Linked DNA regions of Homo sapiens. The main gene of each other region encodes a partner of the protein of the gene in region 3 in a complex. Each region holds a gene or a part of one and is shown on either strand. Other genes may lie near its edges.

Region 1 (7,000 bases), on a different chromosome or scaffold from region 3:
CTATTATTCAGAAACACTACCTGGCTCATAATATCAGTGTACATTCTATAAATTATACTCTTAAGTGAATAACTGAATTGCTTGATCAAGAAATTCAATGTGAGATTTCAGTACCACCATGCGTCTCTACATTTACAGATTGATATTACTGTATATATGCATATAGTCATATCCCAAAACAATATAAAAACAAGCTTTGATATGATTTATGGAGGCTGACTATGTGAACATTGTGATGTAACTTTTCAGCCAAAAGCTTGAAAATGCAGTGAAAAACTGCAATGAAGAAATGCATCTTGGCTGGGCATGGTTGTTCATGCCTGTCATCTCAGCACGTTGGGAGGCAGAAATGGGTGGATTGCTGGAGCTCAGGAGCTCAAGACCAGCCTGGGCAACATAGTGAAACCCTGTCTCCACCAAAAATACAAAAAACTAATCGAGAGTGGTGGTGACTGCCTGTGATCCCAGCTACTCAAGAGGTGGGAGGATCGCTTGAGCCTGGGAGGCAGGGGCTGCAGTGAGCCGAGATCGTACCACTGCACTCCAGCCTCGGTGACAGAGTGAAATCCCCTTTCAAAAAAAAAAAGCCGGGCACGGTGGCTCATGCCTGTAATCCCACACTTTGGGAGGCCGAGGCGGGTGGATCACCTTAGGTCAGGAGTTTGAGACCAGCCTGGCTAACACGGTGAAACCGTTTCTACTAAAAATACAAAAAATTGGCCAGGTGTGGTGGCACGTGCCTGTAATCCCAGCTACTCAGGAGGCTGAGGCAGGAGAATCGCTTGAACCTGGGAGGTGGAGGTTGCAGTGAGCTGAGATCTCACCACCGCATTCCAGGTTGGGCAATAAGAGCGAAACTCTGTCTCAAAAAAAAAAAAGAAAAAAAAAGAAACGTGTCTGGCCAGGGGCAGTGGCTCAGGCCTGTAACCCCACCACTTTGAGAAGCTAATGCAGGAGGATCGCTTGGGCCCAGGAGTTTGAGGTTGCAGTGAGCTATGATTGGGCCACTGTACTCCAGCCTGAGCCACACAGGGAGACCCTGTCTCAAAAATAATTAAGTAAATAATAAAATTTTGAAGAGAAATGCGTCTGAAATTCGATAGTGATTCAGAGCACACACTTGTCTCGATCTGAAAACGTCTCCATGCTAACCGCGCGGGCGGCAGGTACGCACCACGTAGGTGCTGACCGTCTCAGTCACCACGCTGCGCACGGGGGCTTTGGCACTGGCCCCGGAGGCGGCGGGACCCGGGGAGGGCAGCAGGGCAGGGCCCGCGGCGGCCTGGGCGAGCAGCGGCAGCGGCACGGGCGCAGGGCTGACGAGCATGGGGCCGGGGGCGGGCGCGGGGGCCGGCGGTGGGGTCTTCGGCCTGTTCTGCGAGGGCGCCGGCTTGGCCTCGGGGGCAGGGACCACCTTGCTGATGACACTGTCAACAAAAGAAGAGAAGGTAAAAGTCAAAACAGGATCATCATCGAACCAAACCCGTGCTTAAAAACATGATCGTAAAATAGCTTTTCTTCCAGTAGCGAAATACTTCAACGTCTAGAGGCAGCTCAAGAACTGAGTTCCAGGCCCTGCATGAAGTGGCCTCTCCACTTACTCAGACGAATTTTTCATTTTCCAAACTTCCCCTCAATGGCCAGACAGTTAGAAATTTCTAGCAACCAATACACATGCATTGTTCACAGAAATATGACTTCAATTGCCTGTTCCTGTGCTGGGGCAGAAGCTCTGACGGCTTCAGAGGTGGCGCTCCCCACCCCCACCTCTGCTGAGTCCTCGGGGGGGCCTGACAGGGGCTGCTCCTTCCACTGTGGCTCCAGCTGGAGAGGACCTGGAGCAGCCTGTGCTCCACACTGGAGATGGGCAAGAAAGACACATTTGCTGTTGGAAGCCCTTGAGATTTTTGGGTTGTTAATTACCATAAACCTAACCTGGCCTAAGCTGCTGGACAGAGCAGCTTAAAAAGAAAAAGTTTCTATTTCTCTCTTCTTAATTCCAATGTTTCTTCTTAATACTCTCAATGCCATTGTCAATAAAACTGTGAAGACTTTCTCACTTCTGGGTTTGGCTTTGATTGCCAGGTTTTAAAGATTGACCGTTCAGGCTGGGCAAGGTGGCTCACCCCTGTAATCCTAGCACTCTGGGAGGCCGAGGTGGGTGGATTACCTGAGGTCGAGAGTTCAAGACCAGCCTGGCCAACATGGTGAAACACCGTCTCTACTAAAAAATACAAAAAATTAGCCGGGTGCAGTGGCGTGCACCTGTAATTCCAGCTACTCAGGAGGCTGAGGCAGGAGAATCGCTTGAACCCAGGAGGCAGAGGTTACAGTGAGCCGAGATCTCGCCACTGCACTCTAGCTTGGGCTACAGAGTGAGACTTCGTCTCAAAAAAAAAAAAAAAAAAAAAAGATTGTTCCCAGACGGGCTGCAGAGGTAAGGAGGAGGTAATGCAGCGGCAGCTTCTGTCCTGGTGATGCTGCCGCAGGTCGCTAGAGCTGTGGTACTGTGACCCTGCTCCTCCACTAACAGCATCCTCTTCACACAACTCTCGCCAGTGGAAGCAGCTCTGGACTTGGGGCCAGGACATCTGAGTTCAAATTCTACAGCCGCCAGAGACTAGACCTGTGGCCTTGGATTACTCAATTTATTATAAAAAGCACTATTTATTGAGGACCTATAAGAAGTTAGAGGTTATACTAGGCACTTTACAAACATCATCTCATCCAGTCCTTATGAGAACATCAAAGAAGTAATGATTACCCCATTTTGTAGATGAGGAAACTGAAGATCAGCAAGAGAAAGGAATTTGAGTAAACGGGTGGCAGCTTTTGAACCAAAGTCTACTTGATTCCAAAGCTTGTTTTTAAGCTTCTTTATTAAAAAAAAAAGGTATATATATATATATATATATATATATATATATATATATATATATATAATTTCACACACAGAGAAAACAATATAACAGACAGTTAGGTAATAATCAGAGATAAAATATGTTAGCCTTTGCCATATTTGTTTCAGATGAACTTCCTTCCCTGCCCCAGAGCAACCACTGCCCTAAGACAGGTATGTTTTTGTTTATTGTTCTTGGTACTTTGTTTTTTTCTCTGTACCTTTCCTGCCTTTGTAGGTGTCCATAAACAATACATACTGCATTACTGTTTGCTGTCTTTTAACTTTTATACACACAATGTCACACTCCAGTTGTCCTCTGCAACTAGCTTTTCCCACTTAGTTTTATGTCTCCTGATTTATCCATGCTGACACATAGAGATCTATATTATTTATTCTAATTACTATATTGTATTCCATGGTATTAGTAAGCCAAAGGTTTTTGTCCATCATCCTACTGAAAGTAGGAGACATTCACTTGTAAACTTACACACTGACTCATAAATAGAACTGTTCAAGGACTTCTCCAAGCCCCATCCCTAGAAATGAAGTTTCTGGGCCATGGAATATGGCCATCCTCACCTCACCAGGAATTGCCAGCCTGTGGACTGTCCCAGCTTGTCTCTTTCTACTATTCCACACAATTCTTTAGGCCTTGTTTTTCTCAGCAACAAAGTGAAAAGAAATGCAGTGGCCTCAGAGGGTTGTAGTGAGAACCTCAATGTGGAGAAACACTTCAAAAACTGCATCCAGATGGGAACTGCCGGCCCCGTGCCATGTTCACGGCTGTTGCTCACGACAGCCTCTGGCCTCATTGCTGCCAGCCTTCACGGTTCCACTTCCTCATAGTCCTAGTTTAGAAACCACTTTCACCAAAAGGCACTGACTCTTTGCTATTCTGATCATAAATTCATAAAACATTAAGTTACTTCAAAAACTTCACCATTATTTCAGCAAGTAACTTCATTACTGCTGTCGAATTGTTCTCTATTTGTTTCCTGCAAGGGTGATCATCTTCCTAACTTGGATACAGCCAAAGATCAAGAGACTTTAGCACAGGCTTGTTGGTGCAGCAGACACTTCATAAATGCTTAACATCATAACCGATGAATATTTATTGAGCACTTTCTATATGTCTGACTGTCCTAAGCACTTGAAAGCCAATTGTGGGCCAGGCACCACTGTGTTAAATATTTACTTGCCTTGCCTTATCTAGGTTTTTTTTTTTTGAGATGGAGTTTCACTCTTGTTGCCTAGGCTGGAGTGTAATGGCGCAGTCTTGACTCACTGCAACCTCCGCCTCCTGGGTTCAAGTGATTCTCCCGCCTTAGCCTCCCAAGTAGCTGGGATTACAGGCATGCACCACCACGCCCAGCTAATTTGTGTGTGTGTGTGTGTGTGTGTGTGTGTGTGTGTGTGTGTGTGTATTTTTTTTTTCAGTAGAGACGGGGTTTCTCCATGTTGGGCAGGCTGGTCTCAAACTCCCGACTTCAGGTCATCTGCCCACCTCAGCCTCCCAAAGTGCTGAGATTACAGGCGTAAGCCACGGTGCCCGGCCTTGTTTGTTTTTCATAATGACCACATGAGGCAAGCTATTATTCTGCTTTTTAAACGAAGAAACCAAGGCACAGAGAGATTACGTATCTTGCATAAATTAACACAGGTTACTACTACATGGCAGGGCCAGGATTTAAACAAGGCAGTCTGATTTTAGAGCCTGTGATCTTAATAAGTATATGACACTGTCTCTCAATGTGTACTGAGGTTTGCCTTACATAAAAGGCATGTAATGTAGGAGTTCAAAGTTATCGCTATGGCATTTATATCCAGAGGGTAAGCATTCTCTATTTTTATGGTTAGACTAAAATTTTAAAACACTGCTTCTAGAGGCAGTTTCCCATACTGGTTGAACACACAAGTGATGGAACCAAAGCTAAAGGGAAAAGCAGGAACCCTGAGAGGTAAGCAGAACACAGATGCTTTACCCCAAGGGCATTTACGCATTAGGCAAGTCTGATATTTGGTTATGATGAAGAGGACGAATGTCAAAGCCCAGGATCTGCCCGAAGTGGAAGGTGTAATAGAACTCCCTCCCGACACTAAGGATTCCCAATGGGCTATACCCATAAGGTAAAGATGCACGAGAATGGCATGAATTTTCACCTCTGGTGTTCTAGGATACTTTAAAGTAATTTGGACTTGCAATGTGCCCAGGCACACAGCACAATCCTGAGGGGAAGTATCTTAAAATCTAGGTCTCATATTAATACAGATAATTATCTTTAAAAAAAATAAGCAGCACATAATCAAAGATAATCAAATCTATGAGGAAGTAAGGTGGGATCAGGGAAAACTGTTAAGAAATAACAGCTAGTATGAAGAGACAAAGACCACAGATACAAGAATTATCAACTATAAAACAACTTTGCTTACAATGTTAAAAAAATAATAAAAGGCAAAGGCTAGAAATATAGGTCGTAGGAAGTCACAGAGAGTGACTTGATCTAGTGGATTTGAAAAGAACCAAACAGACCTTCTAGAAATTAAAAAATACAGTAACTGAGATTTAAAATTGAAAGGAGGGATTTAACAACAGATTGGAAACAAGACAGAACTATAAACTGAGTATTAGGACAAAATAAATTTTCAGAGCATAGCCTAAGAAGCAAAGAGAATACAATAAAAGGTCTAATTAGTGCATGTTTGATCATAATTCTAGAAGAAAAATGGGGCAGAGACGAATGTTAACAAAGAGTACCTGAGACTTTTACAGAACTGACGAAAGATACCAATCCACAGATTTATGAAGCCCAACACACCCTAGGCAAGATAAATAAAAATAAATCTATATCTAGGCACATCAAAGTGAAGCTATAAAATATCATAGATAGAGAGGAAAAATCTGAAAGGCAGCTAGAGGGAAAAAAGAACAATTCCTCTCAAAGAAGAAACAGGTGACAGCTGACTTCTTAATTAGCAATGATGAAATCTAGAAGATAGTGGAATAACATCTTCAATGTGCTAAAGAAAAATAAATTATGTCTTTGAAAACATCTTTAAGGAATAAAGATGAAACAAAAACATTTACAGGCAGGCAAAAGCTAAGAATTTGCCACCAGCACATTTAAAAAAAAAAATTCTAAAGCAACAATTCTCAAATTTTTCGTCCTAGGGCCCCTTTAAATTCCTAAAAATTATTAAGAACTTAAAAAATGTGCACTATATCTGTCAATATTTACCATATTAAAAATAAAACTGGACCAGGCACATTGGCTCATGCCCGTAATCCCAGCACTTTGGGAGGCCGAGGTGGGTGGATCGCTTGAGGCCAGGAGTGATTCACCATGGCCAACATGGTGAAACCCCATTTCTATTAAAAATACAAAAATTAGCTGGGTGTGATGGCGCAGACCTGTAATCCCAGCTACTCCAGAGGAGGAGGCAGGAGAATCACTCAAACCTGGGAGGCAGAGGTTGCAGTGGGCCGTGATCATGCCACTGCACTCCAGCCTGGGTGACAGAGCAAGAATCGGTCTCAAAAAAAATAAATAAAATAAAATAAAAATAAAACTGAAAAGTTTAAAAATATTTAGTAATTCATTTAAAAGTAACGACAATGAACCCATTATATGTTAACAGATAACATTTTTTTTTATGAAAATAACTATATTTTCCAAGACAAAAAACTTGGTAATGACTGGCAATGTTTTGGTTGTTTTTTCTTTGATAATGGCGTCTTGCTCTGTTGCCCAGGGTGGTCTTGAACTCCTGGGCTCAAGCAATCCTCCTGCCTCAGCCTACCTAATAGCTGGGATTACAGGCGCATGCCACTGTGCCTGGCCAAGACTGGCAATGTTTTAAATTTTTGCAAATCTCTTTAATGTAGGCATATGTAACTAGAGAAGGGAGGAGTATTTTAAAAGATTTTTTGGATAATGGTGTAAGTTCTTCTTTAATGCTGCATTAAATGCAACAAATGATAGTTTCTTATAAGTTGGTTGCAATGTGTAATCTGAAATCATATCAACAGACATTCATATTCTGTTACATTAAAATTTATTGCTCTGTTTAGCACTATGAACACAAAATTTACCCATGCAT
Region 2 (6,234 bases), on a different chromosome or scaffold from region 3:
AATTCAAAATTGGTTTGCTTCCCTTTAGGTGTATGATTACAATGTCATCCTATGTGTATAGGTATTTGCCTATTTTTCATGATCTCTAACACTGTAAAAATGGGTGGAGGGTGTTTTGTATTCATAATACCATCAGTATATTACTTGGATAGATAATAGCTTTCAGGCCGGGCACAGTGGCTCACGCCTATAATCCCAGCACTTTGGGAGTCCAAGACAGGCGCATCACCTGAGATCAGGAGTTTGAGACCAGCCTGGCCAACATGGGAAATCCTGTCTCCACTAAAAAGTACAAAAATTAGCAGGGTGTGGTGGCGCCCACCTGTAATCCTGGCTACTTGGGAGGCCGAGGCAGGAAAGTCACTTGAACATGGGAGGCAGAGGTTGCAATGAGCCGAGATTGCACCACTGCACTCCAGCCTGGGTGATAAGAGCAAAACTCCATCTCAAAAAAAGAAGAAAAGAAAAAAAGATAATAGCTTTCCATCCATCAAGGTTTCATCATTACGAAACTTTGAGAATTAGGTTTTTTGTTGCTTGATAAGGTTTTGCCAGATGATACATTTTTGAGGGAAACGTCTGATTTCAGTGAAAATTGTAATAACCTTCTGACTATCAATCTTTTGTGTTTATGCTTGAAAAAGGTAGAGAATTATTAGCATGTCTGTAGTTTTTTTTTCTTTTTCTTCAAAAGACATTTCCTTTTTAATTCTTACATAGCTTACACAGCATGGGAAAATAGCATCTTTATTTTAGGGTCAAAAATTGTTGAGTTTTAAGTGACATATCACATTTCTTAAACTTTCTCAATTGACCTTATTTGACTATACTTTGTTAATTACCCCTGCTATTTTTTTCTTGTAAAGAACTCTGATTTTCCCTAAGTTTTTGTATCATATTACCTCATTCAGTAGGTGCTCGGTATATGTAGAGTGTCAGGGTTAACATTAGTTTGGTTAGTTCTTTCAATTGATACCTACTGTGAATTGCGTGTATGAATTAAAAGTGAGATGCAGCATGTTAGGTATATTTAATATAGTCAAATATATATAAAATATTAAATGTATTCAAATGTATATAAAACTGGGCAGGTGACCAAAGGTTACTCTGGGAGTCAAATATATCACCTTCTCTTCTCTCAGGAACTATCTGCTTTCCTCTTCAGAGGACGGAACTGTTAGATTGTGGAGCCTTCAAACATTTACTTGTTTGGTGGGATATAAAGGACACAACTATCCAGTATGGGACACACAATTTTCTCCATATGGATATTATTTTGTGTCAGGGGGCCATGACCGAGTAGCTCGGTAAGAACACTGTGATCTTATGACTGGGTCTATTCAATGAACAGAATGGTTTCTTGTTGGGAATTACACAGCCAGCCAAATTCATTTACACTTCCATTATTGAGGTTCAACTTTCTGAGAAGCTTTTGCATTTATAACTTATTTGAAATTGGGGCCGGGCGCAGTGGCTTATGCCTGTAATCCCAGCACTTTGGGAGGCCGAGGTGGATGGATCACCTGAGGTCAAGAGTTTGAGACCAGCCTGGCCAACATGGTGGAACCCCGTCTCTACTAAAAATACAAAAATTAGCCGGGCGTGGTGGTAGGCACCTGTAATCCCAGCTATTCAGGAGGCTGAGGCAGGAGAATCATTTGAACCTGAGAGGCGGAGGTTGCAGTGAGCCGAGATCGCACCATTGCACTCCAGCCTAGGGGACAAGAGCGAGACTTCATCTCAAAAAAAAAAAAAAAAAAAAAAAAAAGAAAAGAAATTGGGGCAGGAGTATTATTATATCTGCAATTACATCTATATGAATCCTGGTTTTTAAAAAATAGTTAATTAACAATCCTCCCTCCCAACCCCATCAGATACTTAACCTTGTCTTCCATACCACTGTGAGCACCTTTATGTTTCTCTGTCATCTGCTTAGAAGTTGAGGATAAGGTAGTTCAGGTTAGAAACTATTTGGCCAGGTGCAGTGGCTCACGCCTGTAATCCCAGCACTTTGGGAGGCCAAGGAGGGCAGATAACTTGAGGCCAGAAGTTCCAGACCAGCCTGGCCAACATGACGAAACCCCGTCTCTACTGAAAAAAAAAACAAAAATTAGCCGGGTGTGGTGGCACGTGCCTGTAGTCCCAGCTACTCAGGAGGCTGAGGCAGAATTGCTTGAACCCAGGAGGCAGAGGTTGCAGTGAGCCGAGATTGCACCACGGCATTCTAGCCTGGATGACAGAGTGAGACTGTCTCAAAACAAAACAACTATTTGGTGGCCAGAACTAGGGGAAAATACTTTTCTGTGGTTTAGACTAGGAATAGAGGAGGAAGAATATACAGAGAATTGGAGTTCTAGAACTTAAGTTTTGGCTGGCTACAGTGGTACACGCCTATAGTCCCAGCTACTGGGGAGGCTGAGGTGGGAGGATTGCTGGAACCGAGTTTGAATCCAGCTTGGGCAACAGAGCAAGACCTCAGCATTTTTTTTTTTTTTTTTGAGACAGAGTCTCGCTCTGTTACCCAGGCTGGAGTGCAGTGTCGCCATCTCGGCTCACTGCAACCTCTACCTCCTGGGTTCAAGCAATTCTCCTGCCTCAGCTTCCTGAGTAGCTGGGATTACAGGCGTGCGCCACCATGCCCAGCTAATTTTTTGTATTTTTAGTAAAGACGGTGTTTCACCATGTTGGTCAGGCTGGTCTCGAACTCCTGACCTCGTGATCTGCATGCCTCGGCCTCCCAAAGTGCTAGAAGTGTAAGCGTGAGCCCCCATGCCTGGCAAGACCTCAGCTTAAAAAAAAAAAAAAATTGTACCAGATGAACTCTTAGGACTGTGAGTCTCATTTTTCTTCCCCTCAGTTAACTAGTAAGTGGGGGGCCCACTCAGAACTAACTTTTTATGTGGATGTTTCTGTATTTATTTTGTATAGATTTTTGGCGTTTCACAGCTATCTACTAATTGTCATCTTTTGCTTTCAATAACTTTATAAAAGGCTCTGGGCTACAGACCACTATCAGCCTTTAAGAATATTTGCCGGCCATCTTGCTGATGTGAATTGTACCAGATTCCATCCAAATTCTAATTATGTTGCTACGGGCTCTGCAGACAGAACTGTGCGGCTCTGGGACGTCCTGAATGGTAACTGTGTAAGGATCTTCACTGGACACAAGGTATTTTACACTCTTACTATTCCAGCATCCAAGGTTGCTTTCAAAATAAAAATATTTTTTAAACAAGTGACACATAAATTTTAAAGATACCATTCTTACTACAAAACTTTAAAATTTTGTCTTATTTTCCTAGACATACTTTGATCTTTTCTATGAACTTTTTTCTAGGGACCAATTCATTCCTTGACATTTTCTCCCAATGGGAGATTCCTGGCTACAGGAGCAACAGATGGCAGAGTGCTTCTTTGGGATATTGGACATGGTTTGATGGTTGGAGAATTAAAAGGCCACACTGATACAGTCTGTTCACTTAGGTTTAGTAGAGATGGTGAAATTTTGGCATCAGGTAAATGACTATTAATGGCTTTACGATAAATGCTATGTTAAGAGGAAACAGTGTTGACGACTGCAATACTAAGTCCTTATGTTTTAGGTTTTACTTCCCTTTAGCTATGATTCCAGAGTGTCATCCTACATCAATCACTTCTCAGGTTAAAGTACTGCTTGATAATGCTCCTTAGGAAGGAATAGAGTTATTGGTCAAGTTTAGATTTTTCACCCAAAATGTACAGTAAATACATAGTGTAGTGGACAAAATGTCCGAATGTAAATATGATGGATGCAACTAATGGTTTCCTTTGACTTCCCCTTAGGTTCAATGGATAATACAGTTCGATTATGGGATGCTATCAAAGCCTTTGAAGATTTAGAGACCGATGACTTTACTACAGCCACTGGGCATATAAATTTACCTGAGAATTCACAGGAGTTATTGTTGGGAACATATATGACCAAATCAACACCAGTTGTACACCTTCATTTTACTCGAAGAAACCTGGTTCTAGCTGCAGGAGCTTATAGTCCACAATAAACCATCGGTATTAAAGACCTTTTGGAAGCTACTGTTTTTAAAAAGGGAGACTAAAAGCAAATACCTCAGTGATTAATATTTAAGCTACAGAGAATGTTTTTGTCTATATGGATCTGGAAGTATGCTGCTTGGAAAAATCTGAACAGGACAGTTCCACGTTTCTATAGCAACCACATTTGACTAATTTCCGTTAGTTGAATAAGAGGTATTATGATCATGGAGGGGACATTTATGGTGCTTTGGATTGTGTGGAAACTATGCATTTTCTGTTCAAATGCTATTTTAATTTATTACATTTAGAAAAAAAGTTGATTTCAATAATTCATCCTGCTTCAAGATTCAAATTCAGAAATATACTATCATCTTGAATTTTAGCTGAAGAATCCTATGAGCATGTATGTTTCTGCTGTAAAAACGTAGTTACTGTATGGCACTCAAAAACTATGTTAAATGATCCACTAACTTTTTTTTTCTTGGCCCATGATTAATGGAATGTATGTAACTAGGTAGGGTTCCTTTCTTAGATCTAGAGGAAGTACAGCCACCCACTGACATCTGAATTTATATACCTGTTGAGTTTTGAGTGCACCCAAACACTCGATAAACCAGGTGAAGAAATTTAGCTTCCATGTTCTACTTCAGCTAAAACAGCTACATACAACCTAGTACACTTGAAGTCAGACAGACATTTCAGTTGCTTACCTCCAGTACTGAGCCTTGCTTTGGGAAACTAAAAGATTTAGACCAAGTCACTGCCAGTTTTTGCCTTTGTTGCATTTTGTACAGTTTTTATATTTTTGATATCTTGTAAATAAAGACAACCAGCTTTTCCAGGTTCATAATTTATTGTACAAATTGAATTATCACATGATGAGTTGGCATTAGCTTCTCCAGGCATGGGAACTTAACAGATGAGGTTAAGAACCGTAGACAGTTTAAAATCCTATAAACAAAGCAAACAGTTTAGATACAAATGTGGCCAGCTTTACTCTTAAGACACTCAAGAATTACTAAGGTAACATGAACCCACTGAAACTGAATGCGAATTTATTAGATTGTCAAAGATGTAACACCAAAAAAATTAAAGTGTATCTCAGATTAATACTTTTTTTTTTTTGAGACAGAGTTCGCTCTTGTTGCCCAGGCTGGAGTGCAATGGCACAATCTCGGCTCACTGCAACCTCCGCGTCCCAGGTTCAAGTGATTCCCCTGCCTCAGCCTCCCAAGTAGCTGGGATTACAGGCATGTGCCACCACACCCGGCTAATTTTGTATTTTTTAGTAGAGACAGGGTTTCACCATGTTGGTCAGGCTGGTCTCGAACTCCTGACCTCAAGTGATCCACCCGCCTCAGCCTCCCAAAGTACTGGGATTACAGGTGTAAGCCACTGTGCCTGGCCTCAGATTAATACATTTTAACCTAACATTCCACCTTTAACAAATAAGCTACCAACAATTTAGTATGATCCTAAAGGTATACTATTGGAAAAGTCTAGCATATAAAGTAACATCTTTTTTTTTTGTTCGGAGACACAGTCTCGCTCTATCCCCCAGGATGGAGTGTAGCAGCGCAATCTCGGCTCACTGCAACCTCTGCCTCCTGGGTTCAAGTGATTCTCACGCCTCAGCCTCTCGAGTAGCTGGGATTACAGGTGCCTGCCACCACGCCCGGCTAATTTTTATATTTTTAGTAGAGATGGGGTTTCACCATGTTGGCCAGGCTGGTCTCGAACTCCTGATCTCAGATGGTCCACCCACCTCAGCCTCCCAAAGTGCTGGGATTACAGGCGTGAGCCACCACGCCCAGCCTCTCCATTTTTGTAATGGGGATACTACCACCCTTCTGAAGTTAGGAGGTAATTAATATAAAAAATTGGGCAAAATACTACCTGTTCGTCAGGAATAAGCCAGTGATCACTGCATTCTCGGATATGCACTCCCTAAGGTCAACTGTTTTGAGATTGGAAAAGCTCTTAAGCATAGAAGAGGCCAGGCACAGTGGCTCATGCCTGTAATCCCAGCACTTTGGGAGACTGAGGCAGGTGGATCACTTGAGCCCAGGAGTTTGAGAGCAGCCTGGGCAACATCACAAAACCCTGTCTACCAAAAGAAAATACAAAAATTAACTGGGTGTGGTGGCATGCACCTGAAATCCCAGCTATTCAGGAGGCTGAGGCGGGAGGGTCACTTGAGCC
Region 3 (8,644 bases):
AATAACTCTGGAGATTGTGACATTAGAATAGAGGAAAAACTTTCAAATAGAAGAGTGAATGGTGTTTGGTTTACTTTAGACTGTATTTGTATAAATATATTATTAGTATGTGTCCAAAATTATGGGAAACTTCTATAATGTTGATATAGTTTAGTGTACATTAATAATTATAATTGCTATGTAAAATTGTTGTATGCCACAGAAGTAACCAAAATTCCTAGTCAATTGTAGCTTTAATAGTGGCTATAGACTTTTGTCATCCACAGACATTTTATCTTGCTTTGGTCCTTTTCAAAATGCAGTTTATAATCAAATATAGGACTCTAAGTGCAGGTCTCAGATAACTTTAAGAACTGTGCTATTGGAATAGAGGAAAAAAACAAACTTCTAGGACTCTCACGGAGAGCTAATGTGTTAAACATTGCTAAACCTTTTGTTTTCAGAGTCAAGAGAAATTATTTCTTTAGAACTATTTGCAACTTTTATCATGTGAGTAAAATAAACTCCTGTGAACAAAATTTACAGCATATTGTTCCTCTCTACCTGATTTCTCCAGAATTTGGAAACTATTTGTGAATATTCTCAATTTATGGCAGTATAGCTAATTGCATAAGTGCAATAAGAATCTGTTTTCTTTTGTAACAGGCCACAGTTGGAGAAATTGGTTATTTTACCAAGGCTTTGACTGGAATGGCATGCTTTTTTTTAAAGAATCAAAGTTGACTTATATAGCCAATTAAAGCCCGTTGGGGAATCTGGCCTTATACCCCGTCCACACAGAGTCTCTGTACAAGGTTCCTGACCTGTGGTAAGTAAAGAATGTCACTTTCAAACAGGCTCAGGAACCCCAAGCTATCTTGGGACCTCAAGAGGAGACAAATTTGCCCAACTCATAGGTATTTGAGGGTACAAACCCATGGCTGGGCTCGGCTTTTAAAAAGTCTTATCTGAGATTCTTCATGGAACAGAGTTCTATCAAAGCCAATTTAAAAAGTCTAAGTGAAAAATAATTATTCTTGCTGCACTTTATGCAAATAATCGGGCCAAGTACAGTAAGACTAAAGTTTATTTTGTAAACAAATCAGTTGTATCATGATTTGTTTTTAATAAAAATGGGGACTGGAGAGAGAAAAATTATGCTTCAAAAGAAAAACTATAGTACACTGTTGTTAGCTGTTCTTGAGGTTTTTTCTGCAGTTTAGACTAAATTCTAAAGTCTTTGTGGGTTAGAAGTCCCCAAACTAGTGCTTCCAAATCTTTGCTTTTAAAATTGGGAATTGTACTCCTCATCCTAGGACTCGTTATTTACCTTATAGTGGGCTGTTTCACTTAAACACTGTAGTAAAACTACAGAGTACTAATGTTTGTGCCATGCAAGCCATGAACGCCTAGCCAGGCCTGCATGAGTACACTCAGACAGTTGCAAACCAGTTCCACTCTTCTCACCTTCGGGTTCACTCCCATTCCCATAATGTGCCCTGTCAGCAGGAAGAAGCCAGAGCAATTGATAGCCTTTTCCCATCTTCACAGCCTACACCTTAAGATTAAGGTGTTATAAAACCCAAAGGGAAGGACTGAAACCACGTTTGCAAAATTATGACTGAGACGGTGAAAGAGATCTAACTTAACTGACTCCATCTTGCTTCTAACCTCCAAGCTGTCCTTGTTCATTCCTGGGCGGAGGCTAAACTAACTTTGGGAGAAACTTAGTTTAGAGTTTAAACAAAGACAGTGACACTCCTTTTCCCAAAGAAGACCTCCATCTTGCCTGGAGACTAGATTGCCTTTGTAGGACTAACATTAGCCACAAGATTGGAAATTATGGTTTAGAAGTCATGCAGCTGGAGGCTACAAGATTCTGACCCTCCCTATACTGTTCCTAAGATCAGTGTTGAGACACCTTGCACTTGATGGATCAGCTGGCACCACCCAGATCAATAAACTGGCTCATCTGATCTTGTGGCCCCCACCCAGGAACTGACTCAGTGCAAGAAGACAGCTCTGAGTCCCTATGATTTCTTTTTTTTTTTTTTTCTTGAGACAAAGTCTCGCTCTGTCGCCCAGGCTGGAGTGCAATGGTGCAATCACGGCTCACTGCAAGCTCTGCCTCCCGGGTTCACACTATTCTCCTGCCTCAGCCTCCCAAGTAGCTAGGACTACAGGTGCCCGCCACCATGCCCGGCTGATTTTTTGTATTTTTAGTAAAGACGGGGTTTCACCATGTTGGCCAGGATGGTCTCGATCTCCTGACCTCATGATCCCCCCACCTCGGCCTCCCAAAGTGCTGGGATTACAGGCGTGAGCCACCTTGCCCGGCCCTGAGTCCCTATGGTTTCATCTCTGACCAATCAGCACTCCTGGCTCACTGGCTTCCCCCGACCTACCACATTATCCTTAAAAACTCTGCTCCCCGAATGCTGGGGAAGACTGATTTGAGTAATAATAAAACTCCAGTCTCCCCCTCTGCCCCCCAACCACACACAAAAAAGAATGCCATGTGAAGACAGAAAGCTGGAGTGATGCATCTATGAGCCAAGAAATGCCAAAGAATGCTGGCCAACCACCAGAAGCTAGGAAGAGGCAAGGAGGGACTCCCCTACAGGTTTCAGAGGGAGCATGACACCTTGCTTTTAGACTTCTAGCCTCCAGAACTGTGAGACAATAAATTTCTGTTGTTCTAAGTCACCTGGTTTGTGGCATTTTGTTACAGCAGCCCAGGAAACTAATAGAGAGATCTGACCAAGGGCAAGGGCAAGGGCTATGTTGCATTAGCTGGGCAGCTACTATTCCCTCTCCCCCACCCTAAGGTATGGAAAAATGCCCAGAGGACGTGAGGGCTTGCCATCACTATATGGTATGCAGGCAGAAGCAAAGGAAGTGTGGGAGGGCACCTTCCCAACGGAAGGTAAAACTGCCATTCAGGCAAATTAGAACACATTCAAACCACAGAGGATAATTCATCTTCTCCTCATTCAGACCTAGAGCTCAGAGTGATAAGTTCCATTTCATTATCATTACTAATTTTTATTTATTTCTTTTTGAGACAGAGTCTTGCTCTGTCGCCTAGGCTGGAGTGCAGTGGCGCAATCTCAGCTCACTGCAACCTCTGTCTCCCAGGTTAGATTCTCCTGCCTCAGCCTCCTGAGTAGCTGGAACTACAGGTATGTGCCACCACGCACAGCTAATTTTTGTAATTTTAGTAGAGATGGGGTTTCACTGTGTTGGCCAGGCTGGTCTTGAATTCCTGACCTCAGGTGATCCATCTGCCTCGGCCTTCCAAAGTGTTGGGATTAAAGGTATGAGCCACTGCTCCCGGCCATTACTAAATATTTTTAAAGTAACTTTTCCCCCAATTGAAAAAATAATTTTCCTATTATGGAAAATTTGGAAAACTCAGAAAAGTAAACACAAAACAAAATGACCTATAATCTCAACCCAAAATTACTATGAACATTTAGTGGAATACCTTTTCAGTCTTGTTCCTATGCGGCTATGTACTTTTGTGTTTTAGTAGGACAGGCAATACTGGGGCCAGCTTCAATTTCTTTGTTAATTATACTTTAGCTGGCAAACTTGAGAACATAATTCTCATTTGCCAAATTGTTTCTCAATTATGAAAGATAATCTGAATTCTTTTTTTTTTCTTTATTTATTTATTTTTCAAATGAGACAGGGTCTTGCTCTGCTGCCCAGGCTGGTCTTGAACTCCCAGGCTCAAGTGATCCTCCTGCCTCGGCCTCCTAAAATGCTGGGATTACAGGTGTGAGCCAATGTGCCCGGCCACATTCTGAGTTTTGAACCACTCTTTCATCAACAAGCTTTTGGACTGGACTCTGCCACGTGACAGTCAGTAGGAACTGACTCCGTGCTTTACACCACGCGCAGTCCCAGTGCTTCATCACTCACCGGAGTTTTGATGTAGGTGTGGGGATCAGGGAACTCAGGAAAATGGCTGGGGATGTGCGGCGGGTGGGGTCGGTTCTGCCCTGCAGTGAGGGCCTTGGGGGTCACTGGCTGATTGGTCACCGGAGCTGCAACAGAGTCACAACTGATTACCCCTCCACCCAAGACCCTGATTTCTACAGATTATGGTCTCTCCCCAAAGCCTCCTTTTCTCAAAAAAATGCCAGACCTCAATTTTCTAAACAAGTTGCATTTTGTATTTCAATCGATAAAAGGTCTTTGATGGCTTACAATGCCCAGCCCTGCTGGCTAATCTTGGTTGACGTTCCCTTTGACAACAATCTGCCCACAAGCCTCTTAGGTAGAGGTGGGTGGCTGTGGCCACAGTAACTACGTAAAACAGCATGCTGAGGAGCTACGCAGGTTACATGGGCTGCTGGTTCTCTTTTCAGAGACCTTGGATAACAAAAAGGAACAATGAGCTGGGGACATTAAGTGTGAGCTTAATCATAACAAGAGGGGATTGAAAATGGCACCTTCCACTGCTATGTTGAGAGGGAGTTTTTAAAAAAATGCCAACAAGAAAAAAGTGACTTTAAAGAAGAAATCCAGGCCGGGTGCGGTGGCTCACGCCTGTAATCCCAGCACTCTGAGAGGCCGAGGCAGGCGGATCACTCGAGGTCAGGAGTTCGAGACCAGCTTGGCCAACATGGTAAAACCCTGTCTCTACTAAAAATATAAAAGTTAGCTGGGTGTGGTGGCGAGCGCCTGTAATCCCAGCTACTTGGGAGGCTGAAGCAGGAGAATAGCTTGAACCTCGGAGGCAGAGGTTGCAGTAGTCAGCCGAGATTGTGCCACTGCACTCCAGCCTGGGCAACAGAGCGAGACTCCATCTCAAAAAAAGAAAGAAAAGAAAAAAATCCAGTTAACTCTCTCCAGGTCCTACAAGCCCAAACTGGTTACTCTCTACTCAGCTTATGGCACCCAGGTTTACTTAAAGTAGAGGTCATCAAAGTTTGTGTAAAGGGCCATATAATAAATACTTTAGGTTTTGCATGTGGTACAGTCTCTACCACAACTAAACTATGCCATTATAGCATGAAAACAACCACAGATAATAAGTAAATATGGCTGCATTCCGATAAGACTTTATTTACAAAAACAGGAGGCAGGCTGCATTTGGCCCATAGGCCACAATTTACCAACCCTTAATCTAAGAAGAACAAAAACTTTCATTTTTCCAAGCAGCATCATTTGCCCTTCTGGGGCTAGAACACAAGAAACACAGCAATATCTCAAAGATGGTTTACCTTTTGGTGACTGAATTTCACATGCTAATCAGACTAGCCCAAATAAAGATTATATTGTAGGTAGCCCCAAACATTGGAAGAGAGCCCACAACAAGGAAGTAGCTACTAATCCAATCCCTACCATATTCAATTACTTCATTCCACAAGCATTAATTGAAAAATTGCTAAGTACCTCAGTTCAAAGTCACTTACGAGCAGTGATGACCATCCTCTGAGACCGTTTTGCATAAGCAGGGAGAGTGTCCACATTGAAACCTAAGAGACAGGAAAACAAAAATCACTGCCCAGACCACTGGATATTGAATACAGAAAGAATAGTAGTAGTATGGACAAATGGCTTAAACTCTCAACTCAATGACCTTGCAGCCACGCAAAAGAAGCTCTGGCAGAATTCCCTAACAGGGAATTATGAGGCCTCTTAGATGTGTTCAGAGGAATCTCTCTTGATAACTCTCTCAAGCTCAAAGCAATTCAAGAGAACCATGAGGGAAACCAAGAACACTTAGCAGACATGCCTGATTCCTAGGGACTCCTCTCCCAGTTGCATCGAAGAACTGGAAACTGAAGGTATACTCACCCATCTCAACAAGTGTGACCACGATATCGGACAGTGTGGGCTGGGTCCTGGCTGTGTGCTCACAGTAAGACTTGGCACTTCTCCCAATTTCTGAAATGTCTAAGAGGGGATTAAAGGCATAAAACTTATTCTCAGTTCCTCAGAAAGTTAAACATAGAATTACCAGATGAGCCAACAATTCCACTCCTAGGTATATACATAAATGAACTGAAAGCAGGGATTCGAAAAGCTACTAGTACACCAATGTTCACAGCAGCATGATTCACAGCAGCCAAAAGGTAGAAACAACAGGTGAATGAACAAACAAAATGTGCTGTATACATACAATGGAATATTATTCAGCCTTTAAAAGGAAGGAAATTCTGGTAATGTTATAGCATAGATGAACTTTGAAAACATTATGCTAGACCAGGTGTGGTGGCGCAGGCCTGTAATCCCAGCACTTTGGGAGGCCAAGGCCAGTGGATCACCTGAGGTCAGGAGTTTGAGACCAACCTGACCAACATGGCGAAACCCCTTCTCTACTAAAAATACAAAAATTAGCCAGGCCTGGTGGTAGGCGCCTGTAATCCTAGCCACTTGGGAGGCTGAGAAATAGCTTGAACCTGGAAGGAGGAGGTTGCAGTGAGCAGAGATTGTGCCATTGCACTCCAGCCTGGGCGACAGAGTGAGAACTCCTTCTCAAAAAAAAAAAAAAAGAAAAGAAAAAGAAAACATTATGCTAAGGCCAGGTGTGGTGGCTCACGCCTGTAATCCTAGCACTTGGGAGGCTGAGGCAGGTGGATCACTTGAGGTCAGGAGTTCAAGACTAGCCTGGCCAACATGGCAAAACCCCAACTCTACCACAAATATAAAAAATTAGCCAGGTGAGGTGGCACACACCTGTAATCCCAGCTACTCAGGAGGCTGAAAATCGCTTGAACCTGGGAGGTGGAGGTGGTTGCAGTGAGCCGAGATGGCACCACTGCACTCCAGCCTGGGAGACACAGCGAGACTCCATCTCAGAAAAAAAGAAAAGAAAAAAGAAAACATTATGCTAAGTGAAATAAGGTAGACATAAAAAGACAAATAAAGATTCTACTTATATGAGGTATCTAGAGATGGAAAGTAGATTAGAAGTTACCAGGGGATGGAGGGGGAGGGAGAATGGGGAGTTATTGTTTATGGGTACAGAGTTTCTGTTTAGAATGATGAAAAAGTTCTGGAAATAATGTAAATGGCTGCACAACATTGTGAATGTACTTAATACCACTGAATTGTACACTTAAAAATGGTTAAAATGATAAATTTTTTTATGAATATCTCACTACCACACACACAAAAAGGTCTTATTCTCTGATGGGCAATTTTTCTTTCTTCTGCCTGAAGCTGAACCTCTATTTAAGAGTCACGTTAAAGTCTTTTGGGGAAAGGGGAAAGGTTTCTAAGATGGAGTTTTTGAAGCTCGGCTCTGTGAATGAGCTTCCAAGGTGGACAGGAGGTTTCATGAATACTCTGAAGCTGTGCTGAATTTTAAACACAAAAAAAGCATTTTTTGGGGAATGGGTCCACAGATTTTATCAAATGTACAAAGGGGTCTCAAAAGGTAAAGAACTCCTACTTTAGGGGCCCAGTGGCTCAGAAGATAAAAGCAAGTGGTACTTGACAGGGAAGGGTGTCTAACAAGAGACCTACCACCTACCACCAACCCCCCTGCTATACTGAGCAAGTCACTAATACCAGCCTCTAGACATGACTTTTAAACTCTAAATTCCAAGATTGTTCCAAGAACTGCATTCTTATCTCTTGGGAACTATTAATTCATTCCTTTAGGACAAAGTTCAAAAAGTAGTAGCCTGGGAATCTGTGGTAGGCCCCAAAATCTTTTCTAAAGTCCACAGGTCAAAACTATTTTCATAATAAAATTAAGTTGTTATTTGACTTTTTCACTCTCATTCTCTCAGGTAGTTTTCCTGAGTCTATGTGACTTTTGATGACAACATGGGTCTGATGAATAACAGAATATGTGATTGTACATTCTTATTTTCAAAATTTCTTCTTCTTTTTTTTTCTTTTTTTTTTTTTGAGACGGAGTTTCGCTCTTGTTGCCCAGGCTGGAGTACAATGGTGTGATCTTGGCTCAATGCAATCTCTGCCACCTGGGTTCAAGCGATTCTCCTGCCTCAGCCTCCCGAGTAGCTGTAATTACAGGCGCCCGCCACCACATCCAGCTAATTTTTTGCATTTTTAGTAGAGACAGGGTTTCAGTATGTTGGCAAGGTTGGTCTTGAAACTCCTGACCTCAGGCGATATACCCGCCTCGGCCTCCCAAAGTGCTGGGATTACAGGCGTGAGCCACCACACCTAGACCCAAAATTTGTTTTTTCTAACGTGGCAAATACACATATACAAAAGCTACTTGGGGTCCTCAATGTTTATTAATATAAAGGGATTCTGAGAGCTGGGTGTGGTGGCACATGCCTGTAGTCCCAGCTATGTGGGAGGCTTGGGTCCAGAAGTTTGAGGCCAGCCTGGGCAACACAGCAAGACCCCATCTCTAATTAATAAGAATAAATAAATATAGGAGTTCTGAAGCCACAATGATTGAGATCACTGCTTTAGGAAAACATTTGGTATTTAAAAGTGCCAAATATCAGCTGCAGAGAGCCACCTTGCCCAAGATCACCCTTCCTGGGGTAGCCCACATCTACTGTTTGATCAAGACCTGAGTATAAAGGCAGGGCCTTTTCAGCTTGATGGGCAATAATGCTCCAGGGGTCCTGGCTAAGTTGTCCACTTCTTTATTGGGCCTGCATTGCACCCCACATCTCCCTCTGCCCAAACCTTTCTCCTACTTCCTTTCATAGTTGTTGAT
Region 4 (8,644 bases), on a different chromosome or scaffold from region 3:
AGACACAGTGGCTCATGCCTGTAATCCAGCACTTTGGGAGGCTGAGGGGGTAGATTGCTTGAACCCAGCAGTTCAAGACCAACCTGGGCAACATAGTGAGACCCTGTCTCTACAAAAAATTCAAAAATCAGCAAAGCATGGTGGCATGTGCCTGTAGTCCCAGGTATTTGGGAGGCTGAGGTGGGAGGACCACTTGAGTCCGGAAGGTCTCAGCTGCAGTGAGCAATGATCATGCCACTGCACTCCAGCCTGGGCAACAGAGTGAGATCCTGTCACACACACAGACACACACACACAAAAAATTGCGTATCTTTAAATACTGGAAAAGGAGGGGAAAAAAAAAAACCTATGTTGGATAATGGTATTATGGATAATATTTTTATTTTATTCAAGGATTTTATAATTATGTCCTTATAAAAAATGCAAGAGGCTGGGCGCGTTGGCTCACGCTTGTAATCCCAGCACTTTGGGAGGCCGAGGCTGGCGGATCACCTGAGGTTGGGAGTTTGAGACCAGCCTGACCAACATGGAGAAACCCTGTCTCTACTAAAAATACAAAATTAGCTGGGTGTGGTGATGCATGCCTGTAATCCCAGCTCCTCGGAGGCTGAGGCAGGAGAATCCCTTGAATCCGGGAGACGGAGGTTGCAGTGAGCCAAGATCGTGCCATTGCACTCCAGTCTGGGCAACAAGAACGAAACTCCATCTCAAAAAAAAAAAAAAACAAAAGGAAGAAGGGGGGATAGAATATACATGTATAACCTCCATCCTCAATGATAAATAGTAACCAATAACTTCTGCAAACAAGCACTCAAATGGATAGCTTATTTCAAAGGGATGCCATAAGTTCTAGTCTTACCTAAAGTTTAATATTTCAAATCTATTCTTCAATTAACTAAGACCAGTTAGGAAAGAATCTTACCATTTCAGTGATAAACTCTATGACAAGATCTTCAAGAATATCCACTGACTCAGTATAAGGATTCTGGTCATCCCCAAAGCCATACATCATACATCGCACTGTAAAAGAACAATCACTTACTTTTGTTTACTTTTACAGATTTAACAATTTGATACTTTAAAAAAATAAAGTAGAAATGAACCAAGTTATAGATAATATTGGTATGAAAACATATTTACATCGTATTTGTTATCTCCAAGTATGGATTCTTGTGTAAAAGGTTTAAGAACAGTCTGATGACCAACTGTTCCCACGTAGCCTCCAGCAAAACTCTTCCTTCCTCCCACCTACTGAACCCTAAGGTAAACAGTCTTTTCCTAATCTCTAGCATCTACTTACCAGTCCCTGCCCCCAGCAGAACACCTTTAAGTAGGAAACTCTGGCAAAGGACAGGACAGACAGCAACAGCTTAGCCTTTTTTGGAGGTGGTTTTTGTGTGTGGGCATGGCAGTGGGGCGTTGGAAAAACGGCAGACTCTTTACTGATATTACCATAGGGGAAAAGACATGAGAGACAGTTCTCCAAATACTTTTTTTGTTTGTTTGTTTGTTTGTTTTTCTTGAGACAGAGTCTCGCTCTGTCGCCCAAGCTGGAGTGCAGTGGCACCATCTTGGCTCACTGCAAGCTCCATCGCCTCCTGGGTTCACACCATTCTCCTGCCTCAGCCTCCCGAGTAGCTGGGACTACAGGCACCCACCACCACGCCCGGCTAATTTTTTGTATTTTTAGTAGAGAAGGGGTTTCACTGTGTTAGCCAGGATGGTCTCGATGATCTGACCTGGTGATCTGCGTGCCTCAGCCTCCCAAAGTGCTGGGATTACAGGCGTGAGCCACCGCGCCCAGCCCCAAATCTGTTCTTATAGGAAGAAACAGGGTACTCAAAATGAGAAAGCAGAGGGCTTACTACAAGGAATTTTGACATTTCCTAGATCAATACAACTGCAGCAAAGCCCTTTCAGGCTTCATCTGAAGAAACCATAGGAAATGCAAAGGATAAGTCTAGGTCGGGTGCAGTGGCCCACGCCTGTAAACCCAGCACTTTGGGAGGCCCAGGCAAGTAGACTGCTTGAGCTCAGGAGTTTGAGACAAGCCTGGGCAACATGGCGAAACCCTGTCTCTACATAAAAAACAAAAATTAGCTGGGCGTAGGCCTGGATGGTGGCTCACGCCTGTAATCCCAGCACTTCAGGAGGCTGAGGCAGATCACTTGAGGCCAGAAGTTTGAGATCAGCCTGGCCAACAAGGTGAAAACCTGTTTCTACTAAAAAAAAAAAAAAAACACAAAAGTCAGCTGGGGGTGTTGGCACATGCCTATAATCCCAGCTACTCGGGAGGCTGAGGCATGAGAATCGCTTGAATCCAGGAGGCAGAGGTTGCAGTGAGCTGAGAATGCGCCACTGCACTCCAGCCTGGGTGACAGAGGGAGGCTGTGTCTCAAAAATAATAATAATAATAAGAGAGACTGTGTCTCAAAAATAATAAGAGAGAAGTCTAATACAGACAAATAAAAATAACTGCCAAAAGATAAAACATATATAGCCCTTATTATATGCCAGGTACTGTCTTAAGTCCTTTACATATATAACTCATTTAATCCTCACAATGATCCTTTAAGGTAGAAACTATTGATTATCCCCATTCTATAGATGAGAAAATTAAAGCACTGCAGTAACTGATTTACCCAAGGTCACAAAGCTAGTAAGAGATGGAACCTGAGTTTGAACCCAGCTGATCTGGTTCGCGTCTTTACTCATACCCACAACAGCATCGCACTTGTTGGTAGTTGTAGTTTAGGGCAGACAGGATCCGTGTGAATTCTTTTTTTTGCTCTCCTTTTTTGAGACAGTCTTGGCTCTGTCGCCCAGGCTGGAGTGGTGTTGCAGTACAGCTTGCTGCAGCCTCAACCTCCCTGGCTCACGTGAGCAGCTGAGACTACAGACACATGCCACTATGCCTGGCTAATATGTGGGGTTTTTTTTGAAACAGAAGTGTCACTGTGTCACCCAGGGTGGAGTGCAATGGCACGATCTCAACTCACTGCAACCTCCACCTCCCGGATTCAAGAGATTCTCAAACTTTAGCCTCCAAGTAGCTGGGATTACAGCCATGCGCTACCACACCCAGCTAATTTTTTTGTATTTTTTAGTAGAGTCAGGGTTTTGCCACGTTGCCCAGATAGTCTTGAATTCCTGGCCTCAAGTGATCTGCCTGCCTTGGCCTCCCAAATTATTGGGATTACAGGCCTAAGCTACCACACCCAGCCATTTAAAATTTTTTCTAGAGACAGGGGTCTTGCTATGTTGCCTAGGCAGTTTTTGAACTGGTTTCTAACTATTTATTTATTTTTATTTTTTCGTAGAGACAGGGTCCCACCTTGTTGCCCAGGCTGGTCTTGAACTCCTGGACTCAAGTAATCCTCCTGCCTTGGCCTCCCAAAGTGCTAGGATTACAGGTGTGAGCCACCACACCCAGCTGAGATCCACAGAGGTTCTTATCCTATCGCCTATAAACTCCCAGTCCAGAGACAAGCTTTAAGAAGTCCTTGAAGGCCAGCGCGGTGGTTCACGCCTATAATTCCAGCACTTTGGGAGGCCAAGGTGGGCGGATCACCTGAGGTCGGGAGTTTGAGACCAGCCTGACCAACATGGTGAAACCCCGTCTCTACTAAAAATACAAAAATTAGGGGGGCGTGGTGGCACGCACCTGTAATCCCAGCTATTTGGGAGGCTGAGGCAGGAGAATAGCTTGAACCCAGGAGGCAGAGGTTGCGGAGAGCTGAGATCATGCCAATGCATTCCAACCTGGGCGAAAGAGGGAGACTCTGCCTCAAAAAATAAAAAAAGAAGTCCTTGAGACTACCCTGAAATCATACGGAAAAATTTTATACATTATCTGTACATGGGCATTTTTCTGGGAATAATTATAACTTTTATCAGATTATCAAAGGGGTATATGTAAATGGTAAGAAATGCTGTCAAATGCTGGAAGTGTTCTGTATCTTGATCTTAGTAGTGATTACAAGTGTGTGAGTGTGTGTGTGTGTGTGTGCGCACATGTATACAGTTGTCCCTTAGTATCCTTGGGAGCTTGGTTCCAGGACCTCCCGTGGATACCAAAATCTGCAGATGCTCAAATCCCAGATATAAAATGGCATAGTATTTGCATATAAGCTAAATACATCCTATGTATATTTTAAATCATCTCTAGGTTACTTACAATACCTAATACAATGTAAATGCTATGTAAATAGTTGTTATACTATACTGTTTAGGGAATAGTGACAAGGAAAAAAGTCTATACATATTCAATAGAGGCACAGTTTTTTTTTCTGAATATTTTCCATCTGAGGTTGGTTGAATCCATGGATGCAGAACCCATGACATAGAGAGCCGACTGTATAGCATACATAAAATTCAGCAAGCTGTTCACTTAAGACTTGCACAATTTATTGTACCTAAGTTTTTTTTTTTAAAAAAGATACTCATAGAATACTTCTAAAGGAAGAAATGAGTAAATTAAGAATAATTCCTCTATTTAGAAGAAGTAAAAACTAGTAGAAGTACAAAGAGAAGAAAGTAGACCAGGCCTACAGAAGAAAAGGGTGACTTGGAAACCAGCCTGAGATAGACATATCCCTAGGGTTTTACACTGGCAAGAGTCTTTAGGTCCAGAAACAGGAGTAAAAAAACAAACACAGGAGCCAATAGTTCCTATCGTTCTGTTTTGGATTCTGTACTTTTTTTTGCCTTTTTAAAAAAAAGATAATTTTAGATTTACAGCTGAGTTGCAAAAATAGTACAGGGTTCCCATATGCCCTATATCCAGCTTCCCCTTATGTTAACATGTTATACAACCATAGGGAGTCATCAAAGCTAAGAAATTAACATCGGTACAGGTACAGACTTCATTCAGATTTTACAAGTTTTTCCACCAATGTCCTTTTTCTGTTTCAGGTTCCCATACTATTTAGTTGTCATGCCTCCTTAGTTCCCTCGAATCCGATAGTTCCTTGACTTTTTCATCTTTCAAAACCTTGACGCTTTCTTTTTTTATTTTTATTTTTTGAGACGGAGTCTCTCTCTGTCACCAGGCTGGAGTTCAGTGGTGTGATCTCGGCTCACTGCAACCTCTGCCTCCCGGGTTCAAGCGATTCTCCTGCCTCTGCCTCTCAAGTAGCTGGGACTACAGGTGCAGGCCACCACGCCCAGCTAATTTTTCTATTTTTAGTAGAGATGGGTTTTCAACATGTTGGCCAGGCTGGTCTGGATCTGCTGACCTCATGATCCGCCCATCTCAGCCTCCCAAAGTGCTGGGATTATAGGCATGAGCCACCGTGCCCGGCCCTTGAGTAGTGGAATTATAGGCATGCACCACCACGCCGAGCTAATTTTTGTATTTTTATTAGAGACGGGGTTTCGCCATGTTGGCCAGGCTGGTCTTGAACTCCTGACCTCAAGTGATCCTCCCACCTTGGCCTCCCAAAGTGCTGGGATTACAGGCATGAGCCACCGTACCCAGTCCCCCCCAAATTTTTTTTTTAAAGGTTCAGGAGAATAGATCTTTCGTCAGTAACTTCTATGAATATTCAGGTAAGATAAGGAGAAGCCTGAAGATTACAAATTCCTGTCATCACAAAGTAATCTCAGTGGAACAAAGGTCTTTGCTAACAACCGACTGAACATCACTCTGGGATGCTCTGGTACAAGGATCCCCTTCTTATGCTGACCTAATAAGTAAAAACCACATAATGGTATAAGGAGCATCAGAGAAATGAAATAAGAAATGGTCAGCATTAGTGAGGAAACAAAATATGGAAAAGGATTTGGATGTTTAAAAAATAAAACAGTGTCTGGCGGCTCATGCCTGTAATCCTAGCACTTTGGGAGGCTGAGGCAGGAGGATCACTTAAGCCTAGGAGTTTGAGACCAGTCTGGCCAACATGGTGAAACTTGTCTTTACTGAAAATACAAAAATTAGTTGGGTGTGGCCAGGCACGGTGGCTCACGCCTGTAATTCCAGCACTTTGGGAGGCCGAGTGGGGTGGATCACCTGAGGTCAGGAGTTCAACACCAGCCTGGCTAACATGGTGAAACCCGTTTCTACTAAAAATACAAAAAATTAGCCGGGCATGGTGGCACACACCTGTAATCCCAGCTACTTGGGAGGCTGAGGCAGGAGAATTGCTTAAACCTGGGAGGTGGAGGTTGCAGTGAGCCGAGATCACGCCACTGCACTCCAGCCTGGGTGACAGAGCAAGGCTCCATCTCAGGAAAAAAAAAAAAAAAAATTAGCTGGGCATGGTGGCATGCACCTATAGTCCCAGCTATTCAGGAGGCTGAGGTGGGAGGATCACTTGACACCAAGAGTTAAAGGTTGCAGTGAGCTATGATCATGCCACTGTACTCCAGCCCCAGTGACAGAAGAGTGAGACCCTGTCTCTAAGAAAATAAATAAAAATTAAGAAAATAATTTTTCTTAAAAAAGATACACTGACGCTGAAGCTGGGCACGGTGGTTCATGCTTGTAATCCCAGCACTTTGGGAGGCTGAGACGGCGGATCATGAGGTCAAGAGATCAAGACCATCCTGGCCAACATGATGAAACCCTGTCTCTACTAACAATACCAAAATTAGCTAGGCGTCGTGGCATGTGCCTGTAGTCCCAGCTACTCAGGAGGCTGAAGCAGGAGAGTCGCTTGAGCCCAGGAGGCAGAGGCTGCAGTGAGCCAAGATTGCGCCATTACACTCCAGACTGACAACAGTGAGACTCTGTCTCAAAAAGAAAATATATATATATATATATACACACATATATATATATATATATATATATATATATATACACACACATATATATATATATATATATATACACACACATATATATATATATATATATATATACACACACATATATATATATATATATATATATATATATATACACACATATATATATATATATATATATATACTGACCCTGTAGTTTCAAGGGCATTTGGGAACTGCTCACATATAACCCAGCCTAAATAAATCATATTCATAAATCTGTGCGGCCTCATCTCTCAATACTTAGACATAACTTTACATAAAGGACCCAGGACTGGGAGATGGAGAGCACATTTTCATGCTGTGTTCCAGGGCTTGGCCTGGATCATCAGTATTAGTAGCAGCTCTCCCTTCCTCGTGTTGCCAAAAAGGGTCAAAACCGTCTACTGAGGGGGTAGGATGGAGAATCAATACATTATAATCTCCATGTTATTGTTTATTTTATTTGTTTATTTATTTTGGACACAGGGTCTGGTTTCGTCACCAAGGCTGGAGTGCAGTGGTGCAATCTGGGCTCACTGCAACCTCCACCTCCTGGGCTCAAGCCATCCTCTCACCTCAGCCTCCAGAGTAGCTGGAACTACAGGGGCATGCCACCATGCCCTGCTAATTTTTGTATTTTTTGTAGAGAGAGGGTTTCACTATGTTGCCCAGGCTGGTCTTGACCTCCTGGGCTCAAGCAGTCCGCCTGCCTTGACCTCCCGAAGTGCTGGGATTACAGGCGTGAGCCACTGCATCTAGCCTCCATGTCACTATAATGCCTTACACGATTCACCACCTTTTTTTTTTTTTTTTTTAAGACAGAGTCTTGCTGTGTCACCCAGGCTAGAGTGCAGTGGCGCAATCTTGGCTCACTGAAACTTCTGCCACCTGGGTTCAAGCGAGCACGTCTGGTTAATTTTTGTATTTTTAGTAGAGACGGGGTTTCATCATGTTGGCCAGGCTGGTCTCGAACTCCTGACCTCCAGTGATCCACCCGCCTCAGTCTCCCAAAGTGCTGGGATTACAGACGTGAGCCACTGCACCCAGCTGTTCACCACCTTCTTACTTTGTTCAGGGCCTTAGTCCAAAGCCCAAGCCCCAACTCACTTGCTACTCTCCCTCAACACCTGTTGCAGGATCCATTATTACCTGTGGCTTACAGTCAAAGAAGCCTCTCTACTGCTGTAAAGGCAAGAGGAAAACTAATGGAGGTATGTTCTTCTGCCCTAAATTAAAACACTAATTACATTTGCTCACTTAAAAAGCAATTTATAGGCCGGGTGCAGTGGCTCACGCCTGTAATCCCAGCACTTTGGGAGGCCGAGGCAGGCGGATCACAAGGTCAGGAGATCGAGATCATCCTGGCTAACACAGTGAAACCCCGTCTCTACAAAAAATACAAAAAAAGCTCTCCCTCCCCCTCCCCCTCGTCTGCGTCTCCCGCTTTCCACCGTCTCCCTCTGTTGCCGAGGCTGGACTGTACTGCAGCGATCTGGGATCGTTGCAGCCTCCCTGCCTGACTACAGGCGTGCGCCGCCACGCCTGACTGGTTTTTGTATTTTTTGGTGGAGACGGGGTTTCGCCGTGTTGGCCGGGCTGGTCTCCGCTCCTGACCTCGAGTGATCTGCCCGCCTCGGCCTCCCGAGGTGCCGGGATTCCAGACGGAGTCTCGCTCACTCAGTGCTCAATGCTGCCCAGGCTGGAGTGCAGTGGCGTGATCTCGGCTCGCTACAACCTCCACCTCCCAGCTGCCTGCCTTGGCCTCCCAAAGTGCTGAGATTGCAGCCTCTGCCCGGCTGCCACCCCGTCTAGGAATTGAGGAGCGTCTCTGCCTGGCTGCCCATCCCCTGGGATGTGGGGAAGCACCTCTGCC

What was found.
Region 1: TAF8 (region 3) and TAF3 share a complex: the UniProt entries of both Homo sapiens proteins name them as parts of the TFIID basal transcription factor complex.
Region 2: TAF8 (region 3) and TAF5 share a complex: the UniProt entries of both Homo sapiens proteins name them as parts of the TFIID basal transcription factor complex.
Region 4: TAF8 (region 3) and TAF13 share a complex: the UniProt entries of both Homo sapiens proteins name them as parts of the TFIID basal transcription factor complex.

Annotation. Positions count from the first base shown.
Region 1 is NC_000010.11:8,003,505-8,010,504, reverse strand, and holds part of TAF3 (transcription initiation factor TFIID subunit 3), read right to left. Parts: intron 1,428-7,000; coding exon 1,175-1,427; intron 1-1,174. UniProt on the Homo sapiens protein: The TFIID basal transcription factor complex plays a major role in the initiation of RNA polymerase II (Pol II)-dependent transcription.
Region 2 is NC_000010.11:103,384,184-103,390,417, forward strand, and holds the end of TAF5 (transcription initiation factor TFIID subunit 5), read left to right. Parts: intron 1-1,142; coding exon 1,143-1,307; intron 1,308-2,991; coding exon 2,992-3,169; intron 3,170-3,337; coding exon 3,338-3,515; intron 3,516-3,822; coding exon 3,823-4,040; 3' UTR 4,041-4,882; downstream 4,883-6,234. UniProt on the Homo sapiens protein: The TFIID basal transcription factor complex plays a major role in the initiation of RNA polymerase II (Pol II)-dependent transcription.
Region 3 is NC_000006.12:42,052,776-42,061,419, reverse strand, and holds part of TAF8 (transcription initiation factor TFIID subunit 8), read right to left. Parts: intron 5,890-8,644; coding exon 5,791-5,889; intron 5,469-5,790; coding exon 5,406-5,468; intron 4,032-5,405; coding exon 3,907-4,031; intron 1-3,906. UniProt on the Homo sapiens protein: The TFIID basal transcription factor complex plays a major role in the initiation of RNA polymerase II (Pol II)-dependent transcription.
Region 4 is NC_000001.11:109,065,213-109,073,856, forward strand, and holds part of TAF13 (transcription initiation factor TFIID subunit 13), read right to left. Parts: intron 1,021-8,644; coding exon 923-1,020; intron 1-922. UniProt on the Homo sapiens protein: The TFIID basal transcription factor complex plays a major role in the initiation of RNA polymerase II (Pol II)-dependent transcription.